Linked DNA regions of Homo sapiens: region 1 is linked to region 2. The links come from fine-mapping of genetic effects on gene expression. A gene starts in region 2. The other region holds a variant in brackets. All regions are shown on one strand. Distances are between the middles of the regions. Region 1 overlaps IRAG1 (inositol 1,4,5-triphosphate receptor associated 1). Region 2 holds the start of RNF141 (ring finger protein 141).

The links. PIP is the estimated chance that this variant, and not a neighbour inherited with it, causes the effect.
Region 1: its variant is fine-mapped to the expression of RNF141 in lymphoblastoid cells (TwinsUK, PIP 0.95).

What each region holds. Positions count from the first base shown.
Region 1 is chr11:10,605,647-10,623,478 of GRCh38, reverse strand. It overlaps IRAG1 (inositol 1,4,5-triphosphate receptor associated 1), which reads left to right. Exons shown (of 21, transcript NM_130385.4): 11 at 13,628-13,751; 12 at 16,707-16,737. Among named protein-coding and RNA genes, the nearest start is that of LYVE1, 46 kb to the right of the region's middle. RefSeq lists enhancers at 1-24, 17,043-17,337, 17,063-17,357 and a silencer at 5,761-5,961. The variant TG/G (reference allele first, on the strand shown) is at 7,188.
Region 2 is chr11:10,532,662-10,548,404 of GRCh38, reverse strand. RNF141 (ring finger protein 141) reads left to right here and starts at 7,218. Exons shown (of 6, transcript NM_016422.4): 1 at 7,218-7,283; 2 at 14,200-14,389. The coding sequence starts at 14,247. It overlaps IRAG1-AS1 (IRAG1 antisense RNA 1), which reads right to left and starts at 7,169. Exons shown (of 4, transcript NR_046375.1): 1 at 6,863-7,169. RefSeq lists an enhancer at 7,033-7,142.

The sequences.
Region 1 (17,832 bases), 74 kb before region 2:
GCCCAAACTGAAGAGTTCCTCTTTTCAAGGCATCACGGCCATCTCTTGCTTACTAATCTGCTGTCACCACAAAGTCCATACCCCAGCCCTGCCCTGCTGGGTAGCTGCAGGCCCCTTCCTCCAAGCCTCTGGTTCCCTGTCCACCTTCTGCCAGAACCATGGCGGGGAAAATGGTTCTGAAAATGAGGCTTCAGCCCCCGCACTGCCTCCCTCTCTGCACTCACCTCTGCCGATGTTCTCAGTAGGGTTCTGACCCCTCTAGATCTAGCTGGGCAAGTCCAGCCCTGCTCCCAGTGCCCCCAACACCCTTCCTCGGCCCCATTCTCCTGCATGAGTATGTCGAGCCCCACCACGAGTTGGAACTGTAAGCCCTGCTACCACTCAGGTGACCTGGGCAAGCTATTCAACCTCCCTGGGCATGTAAAACCAGGCTAAGAACAGTACCTGCCTTCTTAGGTGATTATGGAGATTAAAGCAGCTAATATCTATAAAGTACCTAAAACAATACCTGGTACATGACAGGTGTTATCTAGGTGTCAGCTATTATCCCTAGAGAAGAAGCCCCCAAGGGCAGGAGTGTGTGTGTGTGTGTGTGTGTGTGTCCACTGCTTACAACAATGCCTGGCACTACTAGGGCCTGCATAGGTATTTGTTGAATGAACGAATGAAATTGTATGAGATGTGGCAGGGGGCTAGGTGAACCTGTAATCCCAGCACTTTGGGAGGGAGGTGGCTTGCTTGAGCTGAGGACTTTGAGACCAGTCTGGGCAGCATGACGAAGCCCCATCTCTACAAAAAATACAAAAATTACCTGGGCATGGTGACACACACCTGTAGTCCCAGCTACCCGGGAGGCTGAGGTGGGAGGATCGCTTGAGCCTGGGAGGTCAAGGCTGCAGTGAACTGTGATCGTGCCACTGTACTCTAGGGTCTCGCTCTGGGGTACAGAGTGAGATCCTGTCTCAAAAGAAACATTTTTAAAAAGATGTGGCAGGAGCATTGAGATAGGTACATGAAAATAATTTGTAACTGTAACCATAGTGCCATGAGGTGGGCAAAGAGGCATGGGTGAGTGGAGAGAGATGAGTGTTTCCAACAGGCCAGGCTCCTGGCTCTTCCCTCTTCCCAGAGCCTCTTCTCTGTGGCCACTCACCCTCTAGCCTCTGTGCCTCTGTCCCCGCGGCATCTCCCTCCTGCTGGGCTATCTCCCTCCTCTCTGAGTCATATGGTACCTGTTCCTTAAAGCAGTGGGTTAGTCCCACCAGCTCTGCAATCTTCTACTTTCTTGACTTTCTTTTGTATTTTACTCTATATAGTACTCCCTTTTTCAGAGGGGGTGGGGGACTATTTTTTATTGTAAATATATATAACATTCAACTTGCCATTTTAGCCATTTTTAAGTATACAGTTCAGTGGCAGTAAGTACATTCATATTATGAAGCCATCACCACTATCCATTTCTAGAACGTTTTCATCATTGCAAACTGAAATGCCATACTCATTAAAACAATAACTCTTTATTCCCTCCCTCCCCAGCCCCTGGTGATCACCTTCTACTTTCTGTCTCTATGTATTTGACTCTTCTAGATCCCTCCTAGAAATGGAATCATACAGTATCTGTCCTTTTGTGTCGAGCTCATTTCAATTAGTAAAACATCTTCAAGGTTCATCCGTGTCACCTAGTCCTTTTAATTCAATCTTAATTAATAAACTTCCCATAGCATTTTCCACAGTATAAACCATTTTGTTACCTCTGATTTTATGTAATCTTCCCAGTCAGCTAAGAGGGGCAGGGATTCTTGCTCTTATAGTTGAGGAAACTGAGGCCCGAGGATCTCCTGACTCCAAATCTCATGGTTTGGCCATCTCATGAACAGTTTTAAAACTTTTTTTAAGCTGCACAACATTTCAGACAAGCTGATCTGTAGGAGGCCAGCGTGTTGGGGAGATGCAAATGGGGCTGCTCTGGTTGAAGGGGATAGAAGGGCTTGGATCCTTCATCTTCTGAGACTGTGGGCCCAAGGTACCTCCAGGGACCCAGGCTTCACAGAGCACCATTTGAAAATCCTTGCCCCGCTTCAAGCTGCTGGGGGCCAGTCTCAGCATAAGAGCCCTATGGATTCTTGGGTGAATGTGTCCAGGATGTCACTAACAATGGTGGAAGCCCCTGGTCTGAACTGTAGTAACTTACACCTACCTATTTATTCAGCATTAATAAGAAGGTTCCCAGAAGTAAAATTTCAAACAGTGTTTTTTCCCAAGGGCAAAATATTTTAAATAACCATCTTTAAAGAGATCTTTTGAAAATGCAGCATATACTTCTCTAATTATAATTTTAAATTTACTAAAGCATATTTAAAACACTGGAAAAAACACTTTAAAATTTCACCCACAACCCCATCAATTCTGAAAAACTAACAATTTTTCTTCTTTGCAATATTTGCCCATATTTATAATGTTTTCAGTTGATTTGATGAATAGATACAGCTTCTTTTTTTTACTTGTTATTTTATACTCAGCAATTTCTCCTCAGTTATGATTTAATGGGTGCATAGTTCCTCTTGTATTGACCTATCTATTGTTCTTTGAACTAGGATTAACAATGCTAGTATAAACAATTATGGACCGTTAGTTGTTCTTTTTTCTTCCTTTAAATCATTCCCTTGAGATAAGTGTTCAGACTTGAGAATCACAAGGTTAAAGAGTAGAAACATTTGCATTTCCCAAATTACTTACAATGAATAACGCTACTGACAAAGACTGAATGGACATCTTTCTCTTACGCATTACCCGTGCTGGTGTTTGCTTCTGCTCCTTATTATTCAGAATATAGTAAGAATAATCAATAATTGTCATTGTTTTAAGTTTATTATTATTAGTGTGAAATTTCATTATTATTTCAATTAATTTGCTAGGAAGCTCAAACTTAAAATGTTAAAATAGTCACTTTGTTTTCTTACTGGGTGACTTAACTTCTTACATCTTTGCCCGTGTACCCATTTAGGTCTGGGGTTTTTCGTTGATTTGTTTGGTTTTTGTTGGTAATATATGTAAACTTGATACATTATAGATATTAGCCCTTAATTGGCTTTCTTTCTTTTGGGGGGGGCTGTATTTTAATATATTTTCATTCAATCTTTTTTTTGCTTTTTAATACGTTTTGTGTTATTTTAGAGGAATTGTAAAGATTTTACATAATCATGTTTGCCTATCTTTCCCTTTGAGAAGTCTTCTATTATTTCAATCATTATAAAAATACTACTTCTCCCCAGTTGTAATAATATTTCCACTTTTTTTCTCTATTAAAAACACTGTTATAATGAATACTATCTTACATAGATCTTTATAGAAATCTGTTTTTTCCATGGGCTACTATTCTAGACTTGCAATTGATTGGTTAAAAGTATTTACTTTTAAATGTATATGTGCACACTGCCAGATTAGCTTACAAAATTATACCAATTTAGACATCCACTACCTACAGCAAAACTTTATTATCCAATATTAATAGGGCATAAGATGGATCTTAGAAGTAAAATTATCAGGCAAATGAATGTGACTCCTATAAGCACCAAATTTTAAAAATAAAATTAACCATGGTCAGTGTCCAACAATATACACTCCCTCTCATTTTCTCTCAGTTCTAGGGTCTGGATGCTTAAGAGCTCAGACTTCATCACTTACCAGCTGCATAGCCTTGGTCAAGGTTCTAATTCTCTCCACGCTTCAGTTTGTTCATCTTTTAAAGGAGGTTAATAACAGTACCTACTTCACTAAGCTGCTGTAATGTTTGCATGTGATACTGGTCTTTATTCCAGCAGGAACCTGGCATACATTTTCATTTCTGTCATTTAGGTTGTAGAACTCTATCTTGCCAACCAAATGGGATATTCTTGTACACTGTGCTCCACAGTGCTAGAGATGTGGTGGGCAACCCTCCGTGTTTAATGAATACTTGCAGACTTGTGACTTTCTTTTCTTATATTCTGAAAGCCCCATCAAAGAGCCCCGTCCCCTCCCATACCCAGGATAAAAGGCTTTGGGAGCATTTTATGAGAGCTGGCTCAGATTGTATTTATAGGCACTAAATACAGCCCTGCATATGAACTCATGGGGAAAAATCCAGTCTCTTATGATGGTTGTTGGCTGTTCCTTTGAGAAATGGGAAAAGATACTTATCAGAACATTCTGGAGTCTGAAGAATTTTGGCTCTCCTTCAGTTTGTGAGGACTGGGAGGCTCATTTCTGTGCTGCATCTAGTCTTTCCAACAACCCAATCAGTTCCCTTCTCAGGAACTATATTGTATGCTGTTTTGATCTTTGATCAGTTGCAGGTTATTTCAAGCCAAATATGTGAGACTGACTGTGGGCCAGTTCTTAGGCTGTGTGCTGGGGATGCATTAAGTGAAAAGGGTTCAGGCCCCACCATCAGGGAGAAGGCCTTGTCCCAGCTACCATTATCAGTCCCCTTGGCTAACTCAACAGCCTGCAACCTGGTCCCCTCTCCCTGCACTCCCAACCCCCAACCCAGCTCACACCATGGCCAACACAGCAGCCGCAGGGATCTCTAGAAGGCAAATCTGTTTCAGCATCTTCAGAGGCTTCATTCTGCTCTTAGGAAGAGCACTTGAATCCTCAGTAGAACCTACAAGGCCCTGAATAGTTAACCCCACCCACTTCCCCAGCATATTCTAGGGCCACACTCACTCTCACTCACAATATTTTGGCCTGCCTTCGGCAGCTCATTCTTTCCTCTTCTTACGCATGGCACATTCTGTCTTCTGCATGGAATGTTCTTCCTCTCTCCCTCTTTGCCTAATGAACTCCCAACTCAATCTTTAGATATCTGCTCATGTCACTTTTCTTGGGAAGGGTTTGCTGGTACCTTCGGATCCCTTCTCCTTTGTAAAATCTCTCAGTGTGAAATTGTTTGGATGTTTCTCTGATTAATCTCTGTTCCCCTGAATAATGAGCTCCAGAGGATGTGGCATGTCAGTTTTGCTTAGCATTGTATCCTTAGCTCCCAGCTCATTGCCAGGGACATAGTAAACACTCAATAAACATTAAACAAATGTATGAACGAATAAGCTCACTGTCTAGGAGAGGAAACATAAGAATAGACAAAGTCACTACGATAAATTGTGATAAAACTTTAACAGGCCATAAAGTACCTGGGAACAAAGAGGAAGAAGCAGCTAGCTCAGTGGGGTTGAGTCAGGGAAGGTTTTCAGGAGGAGCCACCTTGAGCTGGGGAAGAGAAAGTCATCCCAAGCAGGGGGACAGCAGAAGCAAAAGCATGTAGGCATCTTCTAGTGCTTGGCATACTTCAGGAACAGAAGGAATGTCATGTGAACTAAGTGTGAGCTACACGTCCCAGAGAGATGGGCAACAAGGTGGGAACAGTGGGCTGAGACCAAGGAAATTGAAGGCTTTGAAGGCCAATTAATGAGTTTGAATTTCATTTAGGACACTTTGGAAAGAGAAGCCTGCAGGTAAGGAAGCATCAGGATCAAATCTATATTTTAGAATAATTCTTCTGGACAGATTGTGAGAGCTGGCCTGAAACAGCAGAGGCTAGAGACAGGGAGACACCAGGTAAAAGGATAGGGAAATAGCCTGGTGAGAGGTAATGAGGTGGTAGTAAATGTGGACAGGATAGTTTGACAGCTATTGGAGATCAGCTTGTCAGGACTTGATGAGGAGATGGAGTTGAGAGGCAGACCAGGAATACCACCAGGCACCTGTCTGCATGGTTGTGAGGGTGATGAATTGTGAGACAGGAGGAGGAGTTTGCTTGAGAAGGAAGACAGTGAATTTGAGTTTGGACATGTCAAATGCCCACGGAAAGCAGCTTGAATGCAACAGACAAACCTGGTTTTGCATTCTGGCTGTACTGCTGATAAGCTGGACCCTAGTAAATCACTTTAACTCAGCTGAGCTTCAGTTTCTCCAGAAAATGCATTTCATAATACATTCTTTGTACTTTCAGAAACCAATTTCTCTTCTTTGGAGGAAGCAATTACCAAAATTCAGCAGGTCCTACAGTTTCACTTCACTTCAAGTTCAATTAAACTCTAATACTTTTAATTTCAAAAAAGTATATCTAGTATAATCTCCCTCTTTTTCCCTTGCTCCTTCTGTATTTGTGGGGAAGGAGGTGTTTAAGCTATTTTTTATTTGCAGTACTATTGTAAGAAATGACAAAGTGTATCTACTGCATAGTTGATGTTCAGTAAATGGTGGCTCTTGAAATGATTTTTATTCTCCTTAACCAGGTGGCAACGTCTAGAAGGTAGTTGGCTATCTGGACCTGGATTTTGAGGGACACGTAGGCTGAGGCAGAGAAGTACATCGAATGGACAGTCCTTCCAAAACCCCCAGTCTAGACTCAGAGCCTCAGGTCTTGGGCAGGAAAGAGGCCTCCCTGAGAAGAAAGAGGTAAAAAAAAGTTTATCCCCAACTAGCAGCTTTGACTTTTAGGAACCATCCTGGGACTCAGAGCATCTTTCAGAGCTCCAAAAGTAATTTTTCCAAGTCCCTGACATGGTCAGAAACAAATATTTTCATTGGAATGAGCTAGTCCTGGGAGATATATTTGAAAATAAATTTATTACTTTTTGTTGAAAGTGGCTTATGTTCATATCTAAAAATTCAACCAATAGTGAAAAATACAAGGAAGAAAGTAAAAATAGCTTACACTAAACACCTCCTTCCCCACTAATACAGAAGGAGGAAGGGAAAAAGAGGGAGATTATACTAGATATACTTGTTTGAAATTAAAACTATTAGAATTTAATTGAACTTGAAGTGAAACTATAAGACTTGCTGAATTTTGGTAACTGCTTCCTCCAAAGAAGAGAAATTGGTTTCTAAAAGTATAAAAAATGTATTATGAAATGCATAAAGGGTTTGGAGTTACTGAGGTAGTTTTTTGTTTTTTGTTTTTTGTTTTTTGTTTTTGCTTTGGTATGAGTTTTAATTCAATTTTTATAAATAATCATGTCCATAGTACAAAATTCAAAAAGTACAAAATGAGACATAGGAAAAAGTAAGTCTCATTACATCTCTGTCCCCCAGTAGCAGAGGCAACCACTGTCACTATGTTTTAGTGTAACTTCTAGATATATTCCAAGCATTTCTAAATATAGACATATATGTAAAAGTGGATTTTTCTTTTTTTTTTTTTT[TG/G]AGATGGAGTCTCACTGTCACCCAGGCTGGAGTGCAGTGGTGCCATCTCAGCTCACTGCAAGCTCCACCTCCCGGATTCACGCCGCTCTCCTTCCTCGGCCGGGACTACAGGCGCTCGCCACCACGCCGGGCTAATTTTTTGTATTTTTAGTAGAGCTAGGGTTTCACCACGTTAGCCAGGATGGTCTCGATGTCCTGACCTCGTGATCCGCCCGCCTCGGCCTCCCAAAGGGCTGAGATTACAGGCGAGAGCCACCGCGCCCAGCCAAAAGTGGATTTTTTAAACATAAATCGTAGTATATTATACAAGGTGTTCCAAACCTTGCTTTTTTCACTTAGTAATATACTTTTTTTTATTATTATACTTTAAGTTCTAAGGTACATGTGCACAACGTGCAAGTTTGTTACATATGTATACATGTGCCATGTTGGTGTGCTGCACCCATTAACTCGTCATTTACATTAGGTATATCTGCTAATGCTATCCCTCCCCCATCCCCCGGACCCCACCACAGGCCCCGGTGTGTGATGTTCCCCTTCCTGTGTCCAAGTGTTCTCATTGTTCAATTCCCGCCTATGAGTGAGAACATGCGGTGTTTGGTTTTTTGTCCCTGCGATAGTTTGCTGAGAATGATGGTTTCCAGCTTCATCCATGTCCCTACAAAGGACATGAACTCATCCTTTTTTATGGGTGCATAGTATTCCATGGTGTATATGTGCCACATTTTCTTAATCCAGTCTATCATTGATGGACATTTGGGTTGGTTCCAAGTCTTTGCTATTGTGAATAGTGCTGCAATAAACATACGTGTGCATGTGTCTTTATAACAGCATGATTTATAATCCTTTGGGTATATATCCAGTAATGGGATGGCTGGGTCAAATGGTATTTCTACTTCTAGATCCTTGAGGAATCGCCACACTGTCTTCCACAATGGTTGAACCAGTTCATAGTCCCACCAACAGTGTAAAAGTGTTCCTATTTCTCCATATCCTCTCCAGCACCTGTTGTTTCCTGACTTTTTAATGATCGCCATTCTAACTGGGGTGAGATGGTATCTCATTGTGGTTTTGATTTGCATTTCTCTGATGGCCAGTGATAATGAGCATTTTTCCATGTGTCTGTTGGCTGCATAAATGTCTTCTTTTGAGAAGTGTCTGTTCATATCCTTTGCCCACTTTTTGATGGGGTTGTTTTTTTCCTGTAAATTTGTTTGAGTTCTTTGTAGATTCTGGATATTAGCCCTTTGTCAGATGAGTAGATTGCAAAAATTTTCTCCTGTTCTGTAGGTTGCCTGTTCACTCTGATGGTAGTTTCTTTTGCTGTGCAGAAGCTCTTTAATTAGATCCCATTTGTCAATTTTGGCTTTTGTTGCCATTGCTTTTGGTGTTTTAGACATGAAGTCCTTGCCCATGCCTATGTCCTGAATGGTATTGCCTAGGTTTTCTTCTAGGGTTTTTAGGTTTTAGGTCTAACATTGAAGTCCTTAATTGATCTTGAATTAATTTTTGTATAAGGTGTAAGGAAGGAATCCAGTTTCAGCTTTCTACATATGGCTAGCCAGTTTTCCCAGCACCATTTATTAAATAGGACTCCTTTCCCCATTTCTTGTTTTTGTCAGGTTTGTCAAAGATCAGATGGTTGTAGATGTGTGGTATTATTTCTGAGGGCTTTGTTCTGTTCCATTGGTCTATATCTCTGTTTTGGTACCAGTACCATGCTGTTTTGGTTACTGTAGCCTTGTAGTATAGTTTGAAGTCAGACAGCATGATGCCTCCAGCTTTGTTCTTTTGGCTTAGGATTGTCTTGGCAATGCAGGCTCTTTTTCGGTTCCACATGAACTTTAAAGTATTTTTTCCAATTCTGTGAAGAAAGTCATTGGTAGCTTGATGGGGATGGCATGAAATCTATAAATTATGAGGTAGTTTTTTTGCATTATAGGTTTTAAATTTAATCTAAACTTTGGACCTGGCATTTGTTTTAATCAGGTATGGTATGACACAGAGACCCACAAATGATTCTCATGAAGGAATAGGTTTATACTCACAGATCCCTAATAGCAGGATGTGTGGCACATCATACAGAGCCCCTTGGGGAAGGGCTAGGGTGGGTCAGAAGGCAGAAGTGGTGAGGGGAGAGATGGCCCCAAGCCTTTACTGGGGTTTTCTTGGAAAGGAAAGGTAGAGGCAGGGTAGGTATCCTCAGTATGTTTAGGGTTGGCTAGTTTGAATAATTTTGGCAGGACCTAGGCTATAGGGTGGCCCGTAGTTGTCAGGTACTGGCCCTGGGGTGATTTAGGGGGAGTATTGGCTTGGTGCGTGAGAATTTGATAAAGGTGATGTTTACAGGTGTGGGTTCTGGATTGGCTGGTTTGTATTTCAAAGACACACTTGAAGGAGAGTTGTTTCTAGGAATTAGCTAGCCTTGAGAGGGGCTGTCACTCCAGGATTAAGGCACCAAGTGACAGAACATCAAGAATACGGAAGATAAGAACATGTAGTCACTACAATGGTACCTACTGACTTCCTGCAGGAAAAGATGAGAATGGCCGAATATCTTCCCACCTTCACATTTCTTCCTACATTTCCATTTCTACCTCTACACATCTTGAATTCTTCTTTGTACATCATTAAGGTTATAACATTTACATTCCATATTCTGTAACCATGGTTTCCACAGTTATTTAGCCTTAGACTTAAATGTAAAAAGATTTCATGTTCACCACTGGTCCCTTTCCCAAATTTATTCGATTTATGTCTTGTTTAGCTGGATTTTGTTTTCCAACAATTTTCCTGAAAGAGTTCAGAGGTGCTGTGTTCCCTGAGTTCTATCACATTTGAAAATTTTGTCTTTTCTTGAAGGACAGCTTGTGTGGTTACAAAATTCTTGGTTGACTGTTTTCCTTGGAACTGCGTAGATGTTGCTCCCCTGTATTTAAAGTTATGGAGAAAGCTGGGACCAGCTGATTTCCAGCACCTCTTAATCTTCACTTTCCCATGTAGATGTCTGGGTTTTTTTTTTTTTTTTTGTATGAAGCATTTAAATATATTTTTTAACATGATGCGGTCTGTCAACCTGAAGGGTTCAACTTTCCCCTCAAGTGAGGAACATTTTTCTTCTGTTATATCTTTGAATATGTCCTTTGTTCCATTTGTTTTGTTCACTGCTTCGGAGACAACATAATGCATAGATGGGTCATCAGAGTCTCAACTCCAGGTCCATTATTTTATCTCCATATACTTCAATCTTTCTTTCCTTCTTTGCATTCGTTATGATTACTCAATCTCTACCACCCTCCTCTAATTCAGCTTGAAGCTATATCTGCTTTATTCCTTCATTTTTCCAATAAATTGGTTGGTTGTATATTTCCCAATTTCTTGATTAGTCCTTTTATTTTGGTCTTTAATTTGTTTCCTTAAATAGCAATCATCTTCCATCTTTGCATGATCTTCTCATCCCAACTCTAATTTCTTAATTTTTTTTCAGGTTATTTTTTCTAGAGTCAAAGTATTTATGGTATATATTTTGCACAGAAGCATACTTTTGCATTTTTTGATGTGTTTCTTGCAACTATGTTTCCATCCTGACATCTGTCTCTTGCACATTTCCCTTTTCCTTCCTTTCTACCTTCCTTCCTCTTTTGTCTATAGTATTTTTGTATAGTTGCCATGCCATCTGTTTTCCTTTTATTTTTTTCTGATTTGTATATTTCTACCTTGATTCCCTTTCCCTAGATATATTGTATTGTAGGTTAGTTTTTGTTGACTCCTTCCTACCTTAGCTGGGATCTCTTAGCCTTCCCTTTAGTGCTTTAGTTGAGGATTGTATATTTTGTGTTTGTTTTGTTACTGCTTAGGTGGTGGGGAAAAGGGGAAGTTAAGATAGAGCTGTTTGTAGAATTGGTTTCTTCTCTTTTTCCGTAACTCTGTTCATAGTCCAAAACGTGAGTTTGTTATACCAAATCGGGGGCATATCTTATTCCTTTGGAGGTGGTTAGTAGTGGGTTTCAGATTGTTTCACCAATTTAGGTTGGAATTGTAGAGACAAGCTGTCCGTAGGTTTATTTTCCAGACTTGACCCAATGCTTCCCAACGGCTACTCCTCTGCTAAGAAAGGAAGGAAAAAACGGCAAATCCAAGGAGTTTAGCCACTGTTTTTCAGGAGTCGGGGGAGAACATGGTGGTTGGGGCTTTCCATGTGTCTCCTGCCATTCACTCCTTCAGAGGGACGTGTTTTATTTACTTTACCGTTAGTCTTCCTTCCTTGTAAATCCCTTCATATCATTCAAGAAAATCCACTCTGTGTTCTGTGCGATCATTCTGCCTTTCCTCTCTTCTTCTCATCAGTAAGAAAAGCAAAATGGCAGGCAGCCCAGGCAGTTTTTTCTCTCTTCGAAATGCTGGTAAGATGGAATGGAGAACCTTCTATTCTAGGGAAACTTTCTGAATCTCCTCTGACAACTGCCTACTTGCCCCCTCCATCCCTTTCCCTCTCTATTCTGTGGTATTGAACTCTTTGTAAGAATTTTTTCTCTCCCATCTTCCTTTCAGTACTGATTCTTTGGAGAAGAAGAAAGGGTTATCATGGGTGGAAGCTCTACATTTATTCCTAGTAATTTTTATTCTTTCTCTAGTCACTATTTTTAAAGACTATTGCCTTTTCTTGTATCTTAGAGTTTCTTGTGTATTTTTTATTTGTTCTGAAATTTTTTGTTGTTAATTTGGTTGAATTCAGGAGGAAGGTGGTTGGTTCCTAGAATCCACCAATTCTGGCATTACTCTTCAAGCACCATTTTGGGAAACTTTTCTAGGCAAAAACCCTGATATGCATTTCACTTGATTATTAGACCTCATATGTTTCGATCATCCTATAGATATCTCAGGAGCTTGCTACTCAGTTGACTCTCTGTTGAGTGTGGTAGGGATACATACATAAAGGTAGAATGATGCCAGGGGTGACACAAGGTTTACCACAGAAACCTTGTCAGAGAGCTATAAATACCAGGACAGAACCAGAGAGGTAACAGGTAGCTAAGAGAACTTCTAGTTGAATCTCATATCCAAAGAAGAATTGCTGACTGACCCATCTCTGACAGATGATCCTCCAGCTTACTTGGCTACCTTGAGTACCAAGGAATCCATGCCTACCATTCTCTTACTGGCAAGCTCAAAGTATTTAAACATATTTTACCTTGAGCCAAACTAGATAGCCTCTTGTCTCTTCATGGTCTCCTTTGGTGAGACTTCTTTCTATTCACATGATTCCCAGTCTTAACTCTTCAGGTGGCTACAACTATGCCTATAGTCCTGGTCTCTAGCCTAGCCTAGGATCCTGGAAAATGATTGAGCAGATTGGAAAGCTACCAGGTTAAAATCCAGGAGAAAGAGTAAAACATGGATAAATATGAAGTTCTACATGCAAATGGAAAGTAACCATTATACAGGATGAGGATAACTGATTTGGGTCAACTAAAGAGGTTGAGAGTTTTGCTTAATGCTAAGTGTACTGTAAGCCCGTAGTCAGGCACACAAAATCTATGCTGCATGAATAACAAACATCAATGCCAGGGACATTTACCAAAGTCTTCCTGTGCTAAGATCTTGTTAGAGAACATCTGGGCCTCTGTAACAGCAACAAACCAGAATGTGTGCAGGAATGGGATGGTATCTAGAGACCATGGGCCACAGTGGAGCACAGTGAGCTTGTTGGAAAAATGGAGCTAGAGTCTGGAGAAGAGAAGCTTTAGAGAGGCACAGGAGCTGTTTTCAAACAGGAGAAAGATTTATGGAAAAGAGAATACTTGGTTTGTTCATTCTGTCTTCAAAGCACAGACCCAAGATAGTTTTAGAAGTTTAAAAAACAAAAAGCTGTTCATTGTCTCTGTTGACTAGGAGGCATTTATGTTTCTGAGATCTGTAAAAGATCTAGCAACCTTAGGTTTACTCTGGAAAATCTCTTATCTATGGGGTATGGAATCAGATGTTAATTTCTAAGTAGGATACATAATATAGAACATTTTAATTTATCCGAGGAGGAATAATTGAACAACAGGTCTCCTGAGAAGCCTGCCAAGGAGCAGGTTTTTTTCCCAAACATTATAGCCAAAGAGCCAACCAGCTTCCAATTGCCAGCTTAATACTGTGGGAAGCAAAGGGAAGAACATAACATTTGAAGCAGGTAGACCTTGAGGTCTGGCCATGTCATTTGCTAGTTCTGTAATCTTGAGCAAGTGACTTAACCTTGCTGAGCCTTGGCTTATCTACATGTGAAATGGGATGACTAAGTTCTAGCTCATTGTGAGAATAATGTAAGATAACAATTAAAAAGCCCTTAACATAGAACTAGATACTTATAAATGTCAAAGCTCCTGAAGCTAGCTGCCAACAGTACTACTGTGATTTCAAAGAGACATTTTATAAGTAAGCACTTTTTTTTCAGGGCTTCCTTCTGAACTCTCCCCAGCTATTGAGGAAGAAGAGTCAAAGAGTGGCTTAGATGTCATGCCTAATATTTCTGATGTGCTGCTGCGCAAACTGCGGGTCCACAGGAGTCTCCCTGGAAGGTAAAATCAGGATGTGGGTTACAGAAGGCCCTGTACCGAGTGGCCCCTGTGTTGGATTCTAGGTGGGACACAGAGGAACACCAGTCTTAATTCTTGAACCCAGAAGGGCCAAAGTCCAATTGTCTAGATAGGGATAATGCATTCGAAACAAAAAGAATAATGAAAGGCCAGGCTGGGTGTTTTCAACTCAAAGGCCAGGTGGGGTTCTTAGGTGAGCACAGTTCATGAAGGCATAAGGGTCACCAGAAGCTCATGGCAGCAGAGAATGGGCTTTGAGCCAGGAGACATGGGTTTCAATCCCAGATACACCATTTACCCATGACTAGTTAAGTTTTCAAATATTTTTTTGTAGAGATAGGGTCTTGCTATGTTGCCCAAGATAATCTTGAACTCCTGGCCTCAAGTGATCCTTCTACCTCGGCCTCCCAAAGCACAAATAACATTTAAGTAACCAAATGAATGATTTGAAAGAGTAAAGTTGGTAGAAAGACCATAAAATAGGGCACATCTAGAGAATGACATGAGAGTGGGGCATTGGGTAGGAGGTCAAGGAAAGGCCTCTGTGATAAAGTAATAATTTGAGATGTGCAAATAACAAATGACAAAAAGCCACTCATGCAAGGGTTTTGGTAAGATTTACAGAGGAAAAAAATTGTAATTTTAACAAACGGTGCTGGGACAACTGGATAGCCACATACAAAAGAGTGAAGTTGGACCCCTACCTCACACAAAACACACAAATTAACTCATAATGGATCATAGACCTAAATGTCAGAGAGAACACTATAAGACTCTTCAAAGAAAAAATATAAGTAAATCTTCATGTCTTTGGGTTTTTTAGATATGGCACCAAAAACACAAGAGACAAGATTTTAAAAATAAATAGTACTTCCTCAAAATAAAAACTTCTGTGCTGCAAACAGTGTCAAGAAAGTGAAAGGCAACCCACAGAATGAAATATTTGCAAATCACTTATCTGAAAAGGAACTTGTTTCTAGAGCATATAAAGAAGGCTTACACTCAATAAAAAGATAAATAACCAATTTTTCAAAATGGGGAAAGGATTTAAATAGACATTTCTTCAGAGAAGATATACAAATAGTCACTTAAAAAAGATGCTGTGTCCTTTTAGAGGCTCACAGCTCTGCCCCCGGGTACCTATGCCCATTTGTAAGGCACAGTTATCTGCATCAGACACCAGACATACCATGTGGCTTCTCTGCCTAAATCATACTTCTCTGAGTCCTCAGAGTTTCCCCCCAGACCCCCACTTTTTTTTTAAGGTGGGTATGTTCTAACTGGGTGTGGTGGCTCATACACCTGTAATCCTAGCACTTTGTAGGCTCAAGGCAAGAGGATCACTTGAGGCCAAGAGTTTAAGACCAGCCTGGACAACAGAGTGAAACTCTGTTTCTACAAAAAATAAAAATAAAAAATTAGCCAGGTATAGTGGCATGCACCCATAGTCCCAGCTACTCTGGTGGCTGAGGCAGGAGGATTGCTTGAACCCAGGAGTTCAAGGCTGTAGTAAGCCACCTCTGCAGTGATCCTGCCACTGCACTCCAGCCTGGGCAGCAGAGCGAGACCCTGTCCCCAAAAATAAATAAATAAAATAAAAATAAGGTGGGTGTGTTCTACAGCAAAAAAGCAGAATGTGAGTCATTGAAATAGAAAAATGTTTGGTTTATAATTTATGAAAATATGTGCATTTCACATAATATCCCAACAAACCCAGGAGTCAGAAACAAACTTGGCAAGTTTTGCCAAATCATTTAAATCATATGTGTATGCTGTAGATGACAGTTAAGGCAAGGGCCTGATGGGTGGGGTTGTGACAAGGACTGTAAGTGTCAAACATCCCTGCAGCTGTTTGTCCCGTGTTCTGGACTCCGCTGACTTCATGGCCATGGGGTCTTCTCATCCTGACAGGAAGGCACTCATATCATTCCCTAGGGGTGAGAACCAGCCCCCTGCAGAGATGGCTGACCCCTACCTTTGCTCTTGGGGTCCCTTCACACCCGTTCAAGAGAGGAAGCTGTGTTTCCTGAGAAGCTTATTGATGGCATGCTCTGTTGCCAAGTTCTGTGACGCTGGTAGGACCCCTCCCAGGCCTCCCCGCCCCAGCACAGGAAAGGGCCTGTGCATTATTTACATTGTGTGGACTTCAGATGGGGCCAGCTTTAGTTACCAGCAAGAGCAGCAGCCACAGCAGCATCGAGTGGACATGCAGATGCAGGGACTGCCTATAGCTGGAGAGCCCTGGCTGTGGGAACGCCACAGACGAGGAGCTGCTCAAAAGGATGCCTCTGTGTCGGCTGGGGCTTTCTTGCCACTCTGTGATTCTAGCCATCAGAAGTTCTTGCTGTGGAGAAGAACCCTGGTCACTCTCTCCTACCATTTATTCTCTGGCCCGCATGCACCTTTGTCACAGCCCTCAGAGACAGAGGAGGGTGAGGCTTTGCAGACCTGGGTGGATATCCCCAGAACAATTATAATGGCAACTTAGATGTGTATGAGTTATAAAGTCCTTATCACATGCATTTTCTTATTTCTCACAGCAAGGCTATGAGTTCAAGGTCACATTTCCCGAGAGCCCACTGAGTGTGGATGCCATATATTTATGCATACAAACACATACACATACATACATGAGTACATATAGTGCTTATAATACCTCTGCAAGGTAGGTGATATGATTCCCATTTTGCAGATGAGCACGCTGGGGCTTAGAGAGATTAAATAACTTGTCCAAAGTCACAGAGATAGTCATGGTGCCGTAAGAGTCAGTATCTCACAGGTGACAGAGCACAGGCAAGGGGACATTGCATCTTTTCCTTCTCACCAACACAGCTTACTCCACCCCTGGAAACACATGGTCTGCTGGTCATTCAGAGTCACCTTTGGGTCTATTGACTAGGTTGCACACAGTTCAATTGTGTGTTTTCTTTTTCACAGTGCCCCTCCACTCACTGAAAAGGAAGTTGAGGTAAGTGACTCAAGTGTGTTATGAAATTTAGTGCCCGTGCTTGACTGGGCTTATTCAAAACATTTCTTCCTCCAGACTCTAGCTCTGACATTTTTAGACAAAAATGAGAAAGAGTGACTGTGGGGTAATGTGAACATTCATGACCAGCCCTCTTGAACCATGAGATCCCCATTCCCACGTCCGTTCATGGAAGATTTTGACAAATTTGGGCAAAAGGGAGAAGGTAGTTGGAAATTTTACATTCCTGTAAGGATTGTTTATATTCTTTAAATGTACGACTTAGATACACAAAACCAGCTGGGAGGCTGCAGAATTGAATCAAATTTATTTCAAAATTACTGAAAAATGGTCAGATTTCAAGTTCTAAGCTTTAGTTTAGTGGGAAAGGGGGCTGGCCTCCTCAGGGTTTCAGCTACAAGAATGCCAGCTCAGCGGAGCCGGGAAGCTGTGCTGTCAGCAATCCAGCCTTCCGGTTTCCTCACTGGGGCCTCCTTGTCCCAGCGGGGTTGTGAGTGAGCTGAGGGGAATCTGCATTTCATTCTGTAGCGGACAAAGAGAACTTATCAGAGGTGAGACAATGAGAACTGCTGATGTGGACCAGATAAGCAGAGGAAGACAGACAGTATGAAGTATCTACCACAGGTAGTATCTATAACTTGCACACAGGCATTGCACTTGCAGTCTATAACACACGCATAGCCATCCTTTCAGCTGATCCTAACCAGCAGCTCTGAAAAGCAGGTGGAGCAGGAATCAGCACAAAGGAGAAAACTGAGTGAGTAAATAACCACACCAAGTTTCTAGATACTGTAGTTGGCAAAACCAAGACCTAGATCCAAGTGTTCTCACTGAATTCAGAACTCATTGTGTCACACTGCTGTTAAGGGGATAATCAAGGTATAGAAAATTAAGCATTGAGCATTATTCATAGACTTGACCAAGGCCGGGTAAGGCAGAAAATTTCTATCACTGGGCTATGAGCTCTAAGCCTACCCACTGACATTTGTGAAGATGGGCCATGGGCGGTTTGTTTAATGTCCAAATGCTGACCGCAGATGTATATGGACACAGCTCTCGGCATGGTGGAAATAAAAC
Region 2 (15,743 bases):
GCTGCCTTTTCCTCCAGCAACCACAGAATTCTCTAGGCTCTGCCATCTCTGCCAAGAACTATTGCGGTTGCTATTGACTGACACCAGCACAGATACGCTGGAATTCTGAAGCCACTTTAGTATGGAAATCAAGGCACCCTTGCTGTGGTACATTCATTCCTATGAGAGATATTATGTGTAAATATGGAAATACCGGATTAGAACACCAATGAAAGATAACAATTGGCAATGTAGATTTGGAAACCATCTCAACACTGGTGAAAATTAAAGCTGTGAGTGCATGAGCACCACCGCCCCCCGGCCCCAAACATTTAAAAAATAAGAGCAGAAGGCTGAGAACAAAGTTTGAGTAGAAGCAGCCAGAAAGAAGAAATCAATGAGATAGAAAAGCCTCAAAGTCCTAGAAAATGATGAAGCTTTCGTCTTAATTTTAGGTGACTAGGTGTTCCTCTTATTCTACACTGACAGAATTAAAAGCAGTAGTGTATTGTTAGGAAAAGCACTGGACTAGTGGCCAGGAAATCTGGATTCTAACCCAGTTTAATTAACTTGCTCTGTACCCCTTAGATGAATCACTTTCCATCTTTGGGTCTCAGCTTCCTCACCTCTAAAAGAAGAATATTGGACCAGGCGATTGTTAGGCAGTCTTTTTTCAACTTTATGATTTTATGAATTACATACGGAAAGTTAAAAATGTTTACAATCCATAGCCACTCAGGGTCTTCCTCATATATTCCCACAGTCCTAACACAGATGCTTAGTGACCTTACAAAAAAGCAGGAGACATTGGACATACTTTCCTAGAAAAAAATATACCAGGCTGGGCTCAGTGGATCACACCTGTAATCCCAGCACTTTGGGAGGCCGAGGCGGGCAGATCACGAGGTCAGGAGATCGAGATCATCCTGGCCAACATAGTGAAACCCCATCTCTACTAAAAATACAAAAATTAGCTGGGCATGGTGGCGCACACCTGTATTCCCAGATACTCGAGAGGCTGAGGCACGAGAATCTCTTGAACCTGGGAGGCGGAGGTTGCAGTGAGCCGAGATTGTGCCACTGCACTCTAGCCTGGCAACAGAGCAAGACTCCACCTCATAAATAAATAAATAAATAAATAAATAAATGGAAGAAAAAATATACCATTCCAAAAGTCTCCAATTTTCCTGATCTTGACTACAGGACCATGTTTACTAGAATTTATCAAAGCCTCTGTGTTTTCTTTAACTGGAAAATACTTATTTAAAAAACTATGAAAATCTGAACATACATTACAAATTACAAGACTCATGGCAAAATGATCCTTCTTCTTATAAAAAACTTAGAGGTTTCTTCTTCCATAACTTTTACTATTTATATATGTGGTTTCCTACAAATATTTTTCTTATACTTTTTTATATGTAAGAAAAATAAAGTTTTCCTTATTCTGCTGCAAAGTAGCTTCAAAATTCCTATTCCACAGAGGATTTCTAATCTCTTCTATTTTGTTTTTTAAGATAATCTTTATTACTGTCTTGTTCTGTTTTACATTCTAATTAATTCATTATGCTCATGCAAAGGTAAGAAGAAGAAAGCTGTTGTGATGAGAAGGTATCTAGAGATGTCATTAATAATATTAATTTAATACTGATTTTAAATATTTTAGTCTTTTAGTCTTTTCCTTGTCAATCCTCACTATACTCCCCATGAGATATAAGAAGGAGTAATGGCTCTATTTTACAAAGTTGAAGGCAATTTGTGCAGAGCACTTTTCATGACTGTTTAGGCCACAATACAAAACCCTTTAAAATTCAACTAGCTATGTCTTTTTTAAACAAGTTTATTGAGGTATAATTGGCATACAATAAACTGTGCATGATTAAAATGTACGAGTTGAGAAGTTTCAACATATGCATCTGTGAAACCATCATTTAAAATCAAGAAGATGAACATATCCATCACTCCAAAAAGTTTCCTCCCACTCCTTTGTGGTACTACCCTCCCACCCATCTCCACAACACTGCTCCCGCATTCCCAGGCAACCACTGATCTGCATTTTGTCACTATACATTAGTTTGGATTGCCTAGAATTGTATATGAATGGCGTCACACCACAGGTACTCTTTTATTGCGGGGGAGGATCTGGCTTCTTTCACTCAAAATAGTTATTTTGAGACTCATCCATGTTGTTGAGGTATACCAATCAACCATTCCTTCTTATTGCTTAGTAATATTCCATTTTGTGGATATGCCACAATTTATTTTCCATTCACCTACTCATGGACATTTGGTTGTTTCCAGTTTGGGCCTATTACAGTTAAAGCTATGTATATTCATGTATAAGCCTCTGTGTAGGCATATGCCTTCATTGCTCTTGGGTAAATACCTAGGAGTAAAATGGTTAGATCATGTGGTAGGTGTATATTTAGCTTTTTAAGAAATAGCCAAACTCTTTTCCAAATTGTTGTATTATTTTACATTTCCAACATGCAGTATACAAGAATTTCTGTTGTTCCACATCCTTGTCAACATGTGATATGATCTGTCTTTCAAATTTTAGCCATTCTAGTAGCTACAGTGCACAGTGAAACCTTATTATTTTCCTGATTTGCATTTCCCTAATGATTAATGGTATTAATTCATGCACTTATTTTGTCATTTATAAATCTTTGGTGAAATGTCTGTTCAAATATTTTGCCCATTTTAAAAAGTTGGGTTGTCTTCTTATTGGGTTGTAAGAGTTATTTATGTATTCTAGTTAGAAGTCTTTTGCCAAATATATGTTTCGCAAATACTTTCTCCAAGTTTGTGGCTTACCTTTTTATTTTCTTAACAGAGTCTTTTAAAAAGCAGAAGTATTTAATTTTGATGAAGTACAATTCATCCTTTTTTTTTTTTTTCATTTATAGTTTGTGCTTTTTGTGCCATCTTTAAGAAGTCTTTGAGAAATCCAAGGTCACTAAGATATCTTCTAGAAGTTTTGTGATTTTAGCTCTTACATTTAGATGTATGATCCATTTTTAGTTAATTTTTACATATAGTATTGATGGCAGTGGCAGCCCGTCTGGAGCAGCTGCTGCAAAGATGCAAGCTGCAGTGAGGGAGGCCTGGCCAGGGCTGCACACTCCACAGAACCATGAAAACAGGAACAGGCTGGAGCCCCACCTGCTTCTGAGTTGGTGGGGTGGGAGCCCCACCCTCCTGGGCACAGCTGCAGCTGCCCAACCACAGCTGTGGACCTGGGCATCCTTGTGCTCTCAGGGGCCCAGGAAGCCCCTTGCCCCCACAGGCTTGAAAGTGCCTGCTCCTGCTGTCTGGCCTCTCCCTGCTTCTGGGGCAGAGCAAAGTTGTGGCCAAGCCCAGACGCTGTCACAATCTGGCAGGTGTGTGCATGCTTGGGGCAACACTGACATGCCAGCCCCCTGCCACCTCAGCCCCCTCTGGACTTTGGACACTGATGAGCATGGGAGGGGAAGCTGAGGGGGCGCTGAGGGCAGCTCAGTGTGGGCCTGCAGGCTCCCGCTGGCACAAACAGCCTTGGTGCCATGGACAGTGGCATGAGGCAGACTGGCTCCTGGGCAAAAAGGGGTGGGTCCTCAGTGAAACCCTACCTTTAGGCAACTGAGAGTCTGAAGCCTGGGGGCTGGGCTGCCAGGTCCTCAGACTGGAGTGAGAACTTATGGCACTTTTTCTACTGCCCATGGACCAATCAGCATGCACTTCCTCCCTCTTGAGCCCATAAATATCCTAGGCTCAGCCAGACTCAAGAAACATGGGGACAACCTGCCTGCGTGTAGGAGCTACCCACTCCAGATCTCCTCTCTGCTGAGGGCTCAGCAGACATCCTGACGACCTGCCTGCAGAAAGGAGCCACCCACTGTGGGTCTCCTCTCAGCTGAGAGCTGGGCAGACAACCGGACAACCTGCCTGCAGAAAGGAGCTACCCACTTAGAGTCTCCTGAGAGCTATACTGTCACTCAATAAAGCACCTCTTCACCCTACTCACCCTCCAATTGTCTGCATACCTCATTATTCCTGGATGTGGGACAACAACTTGGGACCTGCCAAATGGCAGGACTGAAAGAACTGTAACACAAACAGGGCTGAAACACCCCCTCACTCCCCATGTTGCAAGCGATGAGAAGGACAGAAGAGAGAAGGAGAGAAGAGCTTTGACACTTCGAGAAGCCCAGACCTAAGAGCTCCCTGAGCCAGGACTGTAACACCCTCTTGGGGGCTCTGCATTTCCTGGCATCTCAAAGCTTCCAGGTGCCACCACATTCCCTAGTGCCAGCAGTGGAAGCCGCTTGTGGTACTCCTGGTCCAGCCACAGCTTTGCAGGAGCCAGCGCCCATGCCAGCACCTGGAGCCACCCGCCCCGCCACAGCTGGCGTGCCTAGCTGTGCACAGCGGCCAGACCTCGCGCTCACTTGCTCACGCACCCCTCACCACTTTGCGCCTGGCTCGTCCTTGGCAGGCATGGGATCTGGGCCAGTGGCATGAGCCGAGTGCAGCCTGCAAGGCCAAATGGGCAGAATGAGCCCAGTGGGCCTGAGCAAAACTCGGGCAAAGGAGCCACCGGCCACAGAGGTTTCTGGCTGGCAGAGCAACACTCCAAGGATCCTGTGACAGTATGAGGAAAGGAGCAAGATATTAAGAGTTTTTTGGCATATGCTATTCAATTTTTTCAGGTTTATTTGTTGAAAAGATTATCTTTTCCCCCACTGAATTGCCTTGGCATATTTGTCGAAAATCAATTGATGACATATGTATAGATACATCTCTGGGTTCTATATACTGTTCCATTACTCTATCTATTTTCATACCTATACTATACTGTGTTGAGTAGCTCTTATTATAATGTCTTGAGATCAGGTAGTGTAAGTCCCAAAACTTTGTTTTTTTTGATGAAAGTCTTGACTATCCTAGGTCCTTTGCATCTCCATATAAATTTTAGAATTAGTTTGGTCATTTCCATCAAAAAGAAATCTGCTAGAATTTTTATTGGAATTTCCTTAAATCTGTAGGTCAATTTAGGCAGAAGTGATATCTTAAAAATGCTCAGTCTTCTGATTCATGAACATAATGTATCTCTATTTATTTAGGTCTTCTTTAATTTCTCTTAACAATGTTTTTTATTTTATTTTAGATTCAGGGGGTACACGTGTAGTTTTGTTACATGGGTATATCGAACAATGCTGAGGTTTAGGCTTCTAATGATCCAGGTCACCCAAGTGGTGAACATAGTACCCAATAGTAGTTTTTTCTACCCTTTTGGAATCCCCAGTGTTTATTGTTCCCAACTTTGTGTCTGTGTACTCAACGTTTAGCTCCTACTTATAAGTGAGAACATGCGGTATTTGGTTTCCTGTTTCTGCATTATTTTGCTTAGGACAATGGCCTCCAGCTGTATTCATGTTGCTGCAAAAGATATGATCTAGTCCTTTTTGTGGTTGTATAGTATTCCATGGCGTATATGTACCACACTTTCTTTATCCAATCCACTATTGATAAGCACCTGGGTTGATTCCATGTCTTTGCTATTCCATAATATTTTATAGTTTTCAGTATACATGTCTTTCTCATCTTTGGTCAAATTTGTCCCAAATTTGCTGCTTTTTTTTTTTTTTTTTTTTTTGCTGATAAGAGATATTTAAAAATTTTCCATTTCTAATTGTTCATTGCTAGTATATAGAAATACAACTGATTTTTGTATATTTGATTTTGTATCTTGCAACTTTTGTAAACTCACTTATGAGTTCTAGCAGCTTTTTTGTAGTATTCCACAATTTTCTTATGCAAATAAATGCAGTGCTACAACTTCCTTTCCAACTTGGATGCCTTTTATATATTTGTCTTTTTTTATTTCATTGACCAGAACTTCCAATACAATGTTTAATTGAAGGCAATTTTTACAGAGTAATATTTCTAACTCCCAGGCCCGGATTAGGCTGAACTATGGAATCTTGTTGAATTTGATATCTTTTGGAATTTATTAAATCATTATTTATACTTCATTTTTAAGCTTTTTCCTTTTCCAGTGTTCAAATATTCATCAAATGTTCAAATATTGAACAAGTACCATGCTGGCTGTCAGGGAAATAATGGTGCACAAACAGGCATGGACCTAGCGCTAATGAAGTCTTACCGTACTACCGAGGCAGTTTAAAACAGGAATTAAAAACACAGGTTCAGGGTTCTGTCTGCTTGGGTTTGAATCTGGCTCTGCTCCTTAATGGTTGTTTGACCTTGGAAAAGTTAATCGACTTTTCTAAGCCTGTGTCTTAGTGAAGGTATTAATAATACCTACTCACAGGATTGCTGTGAAGATTAAACGAATTAATACCTTTAAAGTCCTTAAAATACGGTTTGACATATAGTAAATGGTCAAAGAGTATTATTATTAGAGGGAAGAATTAGCTCTTCACAAGGTGAATCTACAAGTGACTGGTGAAGGAGGGGTGTACAAACAAGAAACATAAAAACCAGTTTAACTGCTAAGCATAGAGGCAGCAGTGTCAGCTGTACCTGGGTTAAAATCCTTGCTCTGCTGTTTATTGTCTAGGCAACTTTGACCAGACGACTTAAACAAGAGCAATGCCCGTAAAGTGCCTAGTGCAGTATTTGGCACACAACAGATGCTTAAAAGACAGCAATTACTGATTCAGACGTCCCGCAGAGCAGTAATATCACTAACATGTGCTCATCATCATATCTATCATTTATCAAAGCTCAGGATTTTGAACCTTGTAATTACTTTTCATACATTCTCTTATGCTTAACAACTCGGCTAGGTGAACACAATCCATTGCCTCATAAAGAAACAAGATGACCTTTGTGTATCTATCATCAGTGGGGAGGCTGGAGGTCTGGGAAGTGGTACCTTGGAGCCCAACTGTTGACCAAACCAGGGCTCTCAGTGCGGCCTTGGTCGCCAGCGGGGCGCTCCACTTTCCGCTCCGGAGATGGCACCAGGAGAGATGGGAGTCTGCCAGGCTGTTTCCATGGCCACCTCATGAAGCCCCTGCTCCGGGAGCGTGACAGGCGAGACTCTCCTTCGCCGCCACCTCTCGTCTCAGATGACCATCTGGGCTCGAAAGCCCTCAGGAGCTGCGGAGCGCGGGTCGGTAGGGGCGCTGCAGAGGAAGGTTGGGCGCCGTCTCCCGGCAACGCGCGGGGGGCGGGGCTTTGCGTCACAGAGGTGCGACCGGGTCCCGGCCTGAGTCGCGGCCACCCGCAGGTCTGAGCTGTGGGCTGAGGCAGCGCAGCCGCTGCCGCAGGGTGCGCGATGCCTTGAACCTGGGGTGAGCTCCGCGGCGCTGTCCTTTCGTGTTTCCCTTGCTAGCTGCTCCAGGACTCTGGGTCTGGGAAGAGAAACCCCAGAGGGCCCTCCGCTGCCGAGCCAGGCTTCCGCGGGGAGACAGGCCTAGCCCCGCCGCCCTCCCCGGGCCTCGGATTGGGGCGTGGGGACGGCTGGGGAGGCCATTCTATTGACGCCCGTCTTCTGCCCGGCGGGTTCCAGTTGCCCGGGGTGGCGGTGGCTTGTCCCGCCTCGGGGTGGTTCTGAGGGACCCGGAGAGAGTTTTTCCTTCTCTATCCCAAAACGGTTGTTTGAATATTGCCGCCGGCTCAGTCATTCGGCCGCCGGACTTAGCTGTTGGTTAAATGTCCAGGTGCGCTTGAGGAGGGGCTGAGGCGGCGTAGCCAGAGCGAGCGCTAGGGTGGCCCGCGGGCTCGGTCTCCGCCGGGCTGGACACCCAAATAAGAAACCTTTTGCCTGGGACGATAGCTCAGAAATAGCCACGTCGATCTACTTAGCCAGCCCCACACTTATGAATTGGCTTAGGCTGCTACCCTTCCCAAAGGTCTTTCCTTGTCAAACTAGCTGCTACCTTGAGACCCGGCTAAGAAAAGAACGTTTTCTTGCTAATAATAAGAAGGTAGTGATTACACAGCAGGAGCAGAAGGCTTCTGTGTTAGCTTTTGAAATTATTCCTTCAGTTATTTGTCTCGGCGTTACAAAATGTGGATTTACGATTGTTATTGAAATCGATCCCTATGCCCCTTATTAAAGGTAGTGTACCTTTTATATTCTGACACTGTCCTATTTAGCGGTGCCAGCTAATTCAGTTCTTGCCTCTGGCATATATATAAAGCTGCTGGAACACTTTCAATTGTTTATAATTCTTACATCTTCAGCACGAATTTATTCGTTTTCACTCCCTTCTGCCCATTCTTCTTGCTATAAAATGACCTCTACCCATTCAGAATTTTGTCTGGGGGCATGAGCTGCCACCGGCCGACGATCCTAAATTAGTCACCTCCATGTCGAAGTCACCCGTCTGAGAAGTGATGCTTTCTGAATTCAGAGCTCAAAAATAGTATGGATTTTTATCCTTTTCTTTCACATTGCCTGACTTCAGTTTCTAGAACTTTTTCTCAAGAATATGACTATATGTTTCAAAAATTAATATTTGTCATTTGGTGTAAATGAACTTTATATTCGATGTGTGTAGCCTGATCCTTCTTGGTTCCCATCTAAATACAAACACGCTTTCCTTCCCAAAAAGGCAAGGGAGGTCCAGAGAGAATTCTTACAAGTCTAATATGCTTTTTCCAATATGAAATGCATTTAGTAAACACACTGTTACTGTGAGAAATCCATATTCTTAATCTCCTAGTACGGCACTCTATCCTTTTGTAGTTTCTCTCTCCTTCTCTCTCTAATATATATGTATGTATCTTTTTCTGATCAAGATCTTTGATTCTGGAACAGGCATTCTGGACTCTATAGTGACTCTGGCCTAATTATTTCACTATGTATCTATATTAACTTGTCTTGAAAAAAAAAAGTTGATATCTGTTTACAGATCTACAGTTTGAGTAAACAATGAGTAATAAAGTAAATAATATCCTTAGGGACCCAGTCAGTAGTACTTGGTATTTATTACTGATGTTAAAGTTGACTTGACAGTGAAAATCATTGATGTTTATTTCAATTAAATCCTTTTAGGTGAGGTTGATACAAAATTTGATGGAGAACTGGTTTCAGAGAGGTTTTTAAAATACTACAGTGCAGTACTTGTCATTTAGTCATTTTGGTGCATTTTCAGCCTTTTCCATTTTGCTTTAGTTATTTTATGAATGAATTATGGTTTAAATTTTTAGGAGTTTTTGAGCAGTTTTTTCGTTTTTGCTTTGCCAGTTACCCATGATGTAATTTTAATATTTTTATAAGGAATATTTGAACTTCCACAATTCATTTGTTAGAAAAATAAGTGATTCACTATGTACCACCCACTAGAGAATGTGGCATTTTTGGAATCCTTGATCTTGTGCATTTCAAAATAACAGTTCTTTATTTAGAAAATCCTTCAAATGCTTTTTGAAAGCATATTTTTATCTTGCAAAAAATGACTGTGTTATAGGTGGCACAATAATATGAGAGCTGCTAGTTCTTTGAGAAATCTTGACCAGAAATTCATCTTTTGTTGAATTCTGTGCCAGTGGTTTGCAAATTATGTTTCTATGCAATACCACTGTTGCATGGCCTAGGGGGGAGTATCTTGTTAAAATCAAATAGTAAATGTTTCCCAGTTTACATAAGCATTAATTTAATGACAGATTTTCACAGTTTTACATTTTCTTTCATACATATTTTTAACTTCTGCTTCTCTCCAACCTAGTACTAATAGATGACTGACCAAATTAACAAAAGTCAAAAGAATACTAAGTGAATAATAATAAAACAAAAACTGCCAATGGTATTTACTGCATTTATTCAGTAAACATCTATTGAGTGCTTGTGTATCTGCCAGAAGACAGACCATAGCTGCTGTCCTCAAGAAGCTCACTAGAGGGAAATGGCCAAGTGACTTAACGAATGTCATAGTATGATAGAAATATGTGCAGTCACCAAAGAGGGACACTGAAAAGCTGTGGTGGTTGACTAGAGGATGGCCTCAACAGATTGTTTTCGTGAACATGCACTCTGTGTTGTGGTTTTATATTGTATGCAGATCACAGAGTCATATCTTATTTTCACACCCATATAGTGATAGATGTTAATATTTATCAATATTTTATGGTTTTCAAAATAAACTAAATGTCAAGCCCTCTTTCTGGAACCAGGTTGAAAACCACTTCTGCAGGCTCTCTCAGGTAGTCTCTAGATACTGTTGCATTTTAATGCAAGGAGTTAGTGATGAAGTTTCCCAGATACCAAGTACAGTTACAAGATAACAAGTTAATATGCTGCCTCAAATTATAAACTTTACTCAAAGTTAGGGCAGCAGATGAAAACAATGCTGAAACAAAGGGGATCATTTTCTATTAATAACTCAATAAATAAGCAACTAACTCTTCTTTTGAAATATGGTTTTGGTGGGTAATGTAGGGTAGCAAAATACGCCACTTTGGCATAAGGATTATTTTGAGTTAAAAGCACATTGAAAAGCAGCAGATGTAAGAAGTGCCCACTGACCCTCCTAATTCTTCCTGAAGGCTGGAGATAAAACAGCCATGTGAAAGATGTCCTCTCTATGCCAGGAGGAAGACATTATCATTACTAGAAGTGGGCAATCAAAGCTGAGAGAAATGTGTTCAAAGAAGCCTTCTTAAAGTAACCCTTATCTTCCTAGTCACTTTTCTGTGATTAACTGGCCCAGCCCAAACCCTTGTGTCTTGTCATGTTTTCACAGTTTACTTCTCCTTTGTCCAATCTACTATGTAAGCTTTTGGCCTTAATTACTTTTTTTAGTCCTTATTTTTCTTGAGGGCTCCTGTGTATGTATAAAAATTACTAAATAAAATTTGTGTGTTTTTCTCCTGTTAATCTGTCTTAGGTTAGTTTAATTCTTGGGCCCAGCTGGAGACCTCAGAGAGCAGAGGGAGAGAAATTCTATCTCCCCTATACCACGTTGGTTAAATTATCATAGGTATTTATATTAAATATTGAGACTATATATTTCAAAAGTTCAGTTTTTTTCTTTGTTAAGTAATGTAGATATTATTCAAAGTTTTCAGCCTGGTTGACTAGAATCTTAATTACATTTTCATTAAATTGGTACAGGAATGTTAGAGGAAGGTTCAGTTTCATTTTGGGAATAAAATGTTAGGTTAAAGGTCACCTACTCCACTTCCCACCCAGGTAAAAATCCCTGTAACACTTATTAGATGTACTTCTAATCTTTACCTAAACACTTCCATACTTCCAATGAGAGGGAGCTCACATGTAGCAGCCATTTCCACTTCTGGATGGTGCGACATGCTTATCATCAACTGAAATCTGCCTTTCTAATTTATACTTACTATACTTAGTGGCCATCCCATTCTCTGTAAATGAATCTTGTTTTTCCACATGACAGCTCCTCAGATATTTAAACAAACTTATATTGCTTCATTGTTACCAAACTATGACTATCTAGAATAAACCTCTTTTTTTTTCTATGCCCATGAATATGTTCTAATTTATTAGTATCCTTTAAAGCCAACTGCTTAGAGCTGAATACAGACTTTTCAGTGTGGCCTAACCATTGCAAAGCATAATGGACTAGTAGGCTGCTTGCTCAAGATACCTGCTTCTAGCAAGAGTTTAGGATTATTTTAGCATACTTGTTGCCCCCGTTATACTGTTGACTTATTTTGATTAAAAACCCCAGACTTGGCCGGGTGCGGCAGCTCATGCCTGTAATCCTCGGCCTGGGAGGCCGAGGCGGGAGGATTGCTTGAGCCCAGGAGTTTGTTACCAGACTGGGCAACAAACTCTGTTTGTTTAAAGAGACTCCATCTCTTTAAAAAACACAAAAACAAAAACCCAGACCTTCTGTATTTTAACTGCTTTTGAGCACATCTTACATATGTGTTTTTGTGCAGTTGGCTCTTCAGGATATAACTTTTAGTCATATTAAATAGCATGTAAGTGTCTGTTTTAGTCTTGATCCTATTATTCACTAGATAATATTCATTTATTCCAGTTTTGGTCATCCGCAGATTGGGCAGGCATACAGTCTTCAGGTCATCAACAAAAATGTTAAACAGCCCAACTCTTGGTGCCAGTTTCCCTCTCCCTTTGCCTCTCTGCTTTAGTCCTTGTGGCCTTTTTAAAAATTACCTCAAAGTCACCGTGCTGCTTCCTGTCTCAGGCACTTTTCATAACCTCTGCCTGGAGTGTCCTCCTTTTGCCATTTCCCTACTTTTTTTTTAATCCCTAACTCTGACCATTCTGACCTCAAGTAAAATGTTGTTTGCCCAGGGACTTCTTCCCTGATACAAAACTAGGTCAAGTCCCCCTTTTATAGGCTTTCACAGCACCTGTACTTGTTCACCTAGCACTTCTCATTTTGTAATTATACATTTATTTGTGTGGTTACTGTCTCTTCTCCACTGTATTGGATGCTCCACAGTGGCAAGAACCATGTTTCTTTTGTTCACTGTTTTATCTCCAGAACATAAGCACCAGGCACGTGCTACTTGTTGAATTTAATTTTAAAAAAGTCCTGTAACACAGTGGCTCCCTAATACCAGTCTGCAACCCTTGGCTTCTGATGATGTTTTCATAAGTTTGGATTCGATCAAGAAAAATAAGGACAATGTGTAGTATACCTGGTAAATATGTGGTATACCTCATTGTGAAGTTACTGCCCTTCTTGGGAAAGACTTTTTTTCTAATATTATATCCTACTTTTCAGGTTATAAGTTCTTTTTGAGATTTTTGTTAAGTTTTGGGGAATTTTTGTTTATTTTTGGAAACTGTCCTTGCTTAGAATTAAAAGAAGTATCCAACACCATGGTGCTTTGAGATTTTACTAGTCTTTGAAATTCAGCAATCACTGTTGTTGACTGCCCTAGAGACCTCTTCTAAGCTAAGATCTTTAATTGTTTCTTCTTGGATACAGTTGCTGTAAATCCACTTGGCTATATTTACATATAATTTGACTTCAGGGATTTTTTTTTTTTTTTTTGGCCTGGATCTTCCTCAACAACTTCCTTTCATTTATCTCTATAATGTGATATTTATTATTACCAAGTAGGCTCAGATTCAAAACTGTTGTTTTTTGTTTTTTTTTTAAATTACAATTGTCCTTTTCCTATTTTAGGTAACTAAAGGAATTAACTTCAAATACAGTACATTAAATTTTAATACCTAAAGGAAATTTTACATATTTTGGGGTTACTAACTTCATAAAGTTATATATATTTTAAATTTATAGCTTTATTTTTTGATTAATGATAAAGCAATCTTCCTACCAAAACTTTTTCTATAAGAGTATTACTGTTTCACCTGCTTTATGTGATATGGTTGTTAATTTGGATGAAATAAAATGATAGTCTTTGATGGATAAATAAAATAGAATTTCTTGGGGGGGCATCTGATTTTGGGGGCATTTAAAAACTTGATAATTAGATATATATTTTGGGGGTACCTAAAAGAGTTAATGAACAAAAGAGCTATCTTTTTCCAGGCAGAAAATGTGAGGTGGTTAAAATATCTAACATTTTAATTTTCTTAGGTTTTTCAAGCCACAAGTCTTTTTATATATTTTTAAAAATTAAAACTAAGGTACACATCTATAAATAAAGTAATTCAACAAAAAATTATTTAGCTGATGTAAATATATTGTGAGCCAGTATGTCATAGTGGATAAGAATGTAAGTACTAGAATCTGAAAAACAAATTCAGAGTTCACTTTCACCACTTACAGCTGTGTAACTTTAGATAAATCACCTAGCTCAGTTTCCCTGTCTATGGGAAATAGGTAGGGGTGTAATATTGTCTACCTCTTAGGATTGTTGTAAGAAGTAATTGACATAATATACGGAAAACAGTTTGGAGCCTGACATGTGGTAAGCAGTCAGGAAATGTTCTTAGGAAAATTATAGAAGGTAGACAAACTTCCTCTTAAATACAATTACTTGAATGCGTGTGTGTGTGTGTGTGTGTGTGTGTACACATGCACATGTGCTTTAGTGGTTTTTGACTTGGTAAAATTATAAGAATTAGAGGTTCATCACCCTCCCAATAATATATAAGTGAATCCTGTTTTCTCATTTAGCTATGTGAATCTGAAAACAGAGTCATTTAAATTCTACCTTAGACTCATGTAGGTCTACTCAACTCTCACTTAAAGGTATCCCTAGTTTTTCTTTATGTTTTTGAAGAATGAGTATATTGCCGTTTTTGTATAATATGTAAAAGTAACTTTTCTGTATATTTGACAGAAACTATGTGAAGCAACACTCTGGATTTTGAAAGACATCTTTTCATCATGGGACAGCAAATTTCGGATCAGACACAGTTGGTTATTAACAAGTTACCAGAAAAAGTAGCAAAACATGTTACGTTGGTTCGAGAGAGTGGCTCCTTAACTTATGAAGAATTTCTTGGGAGAGTAGCTGAGCTTAATGATGTGTAAGGCTTGCTCTTTTTGTTTTTCGTTTTTCCCCTTGTTGTATGTATGCCCCATATGTCATGGCTGTGTAAGATATAACCAGAGGTGTTGATTGGTAAGACTTAATGTTTTCAGTTAGCATTAACAAATACTTATTGAGTATCTATTATAAGTTGACTTTCTATGTAGCTTTTTAAAAGTATGTAATGGGGACAGAAGATATGGAAAGAACTTAAAATGGAACTTGGAACACAGCACAGGCATATTGAAGCAATTCTAGGATACAGTAGTACATCCCAGCATCTCAATTTTATACCAATAGACTCTTGTTTGAAAGCACTAAAGGGGTGCATAACAAAATGGAATATGAGAATTAGCCACTCTAGAGAAAGACTCCTAGGATAGTCAAAGGTAACACTGAGAAGGTTTCTGTACATGAAGCAATTCATTCATGTGTGTGTGTATATAGACACACACATGCATATATATATATACTTTTTTTTACTGTGTCATCATTTTGCTAGAGGAATACATATGTAGTAATAGCTTATTTTCATCACTGAGAAATAATATATTTCATTTATTCATATTTTCTAATTAATTAACACCTTTAAATTTCTACTTAACTCTTTGACTAAATTTCTAAAATGAAATATAAATTTCTCTGCCTTCTTAAAGAGTACACCTAATACAACTTAGTCTTCTATTTGTTAATTTATTTATCAATTTTGGTATTGATCTATGTAGAAGCTATGAAAATATATAGGGCTCTTTGTTCCTGAATGCCCCCAGACCACTGTGCTTTTAAAATATGACTTTTTTGCTATTTATTTTCTCCCTTGGTGACAATTGGGCAGATGTCATATCTTTCTTTTAAATCTGCCTCTAGCAACATCCACATCTACCTTTATTTATGTATATCTTCTAACCCCTGGGAGTATAATTAGAACCTGTGGAGTCACCTCTTAAATGAGATCTTAAAGGTTCTCTGTTTAGTCTCTTCAACTTAGCTAACATTCACTAAGCACATAGTATGTGCAAGGCCCTCTGCTAAGGATTGGACCTTTTAACTGAGGGCCAAGTTGATTACGCAGGTATTAATGGCATGTCCACCTCTCTGAATCTCAGTTTTCCTGTTATCCCATATTACCTCTCCTTAAACCCTAAAAAGGCTGAATGAAATCGACTAGCAGTTCAGGACCACTTAGTATATAAACTTACAGTACTGTAGTCACTATTAATAGTTTAAGGTAAGATATATGAACCCACTCCGTAGGCATTACAACCATGGTGTTAGGTGATAAGAGACATGCTTAGCAATCTGTAACATATTAGATAAGCTTGATATACTGTCTTTATGTGAAGACATACTGT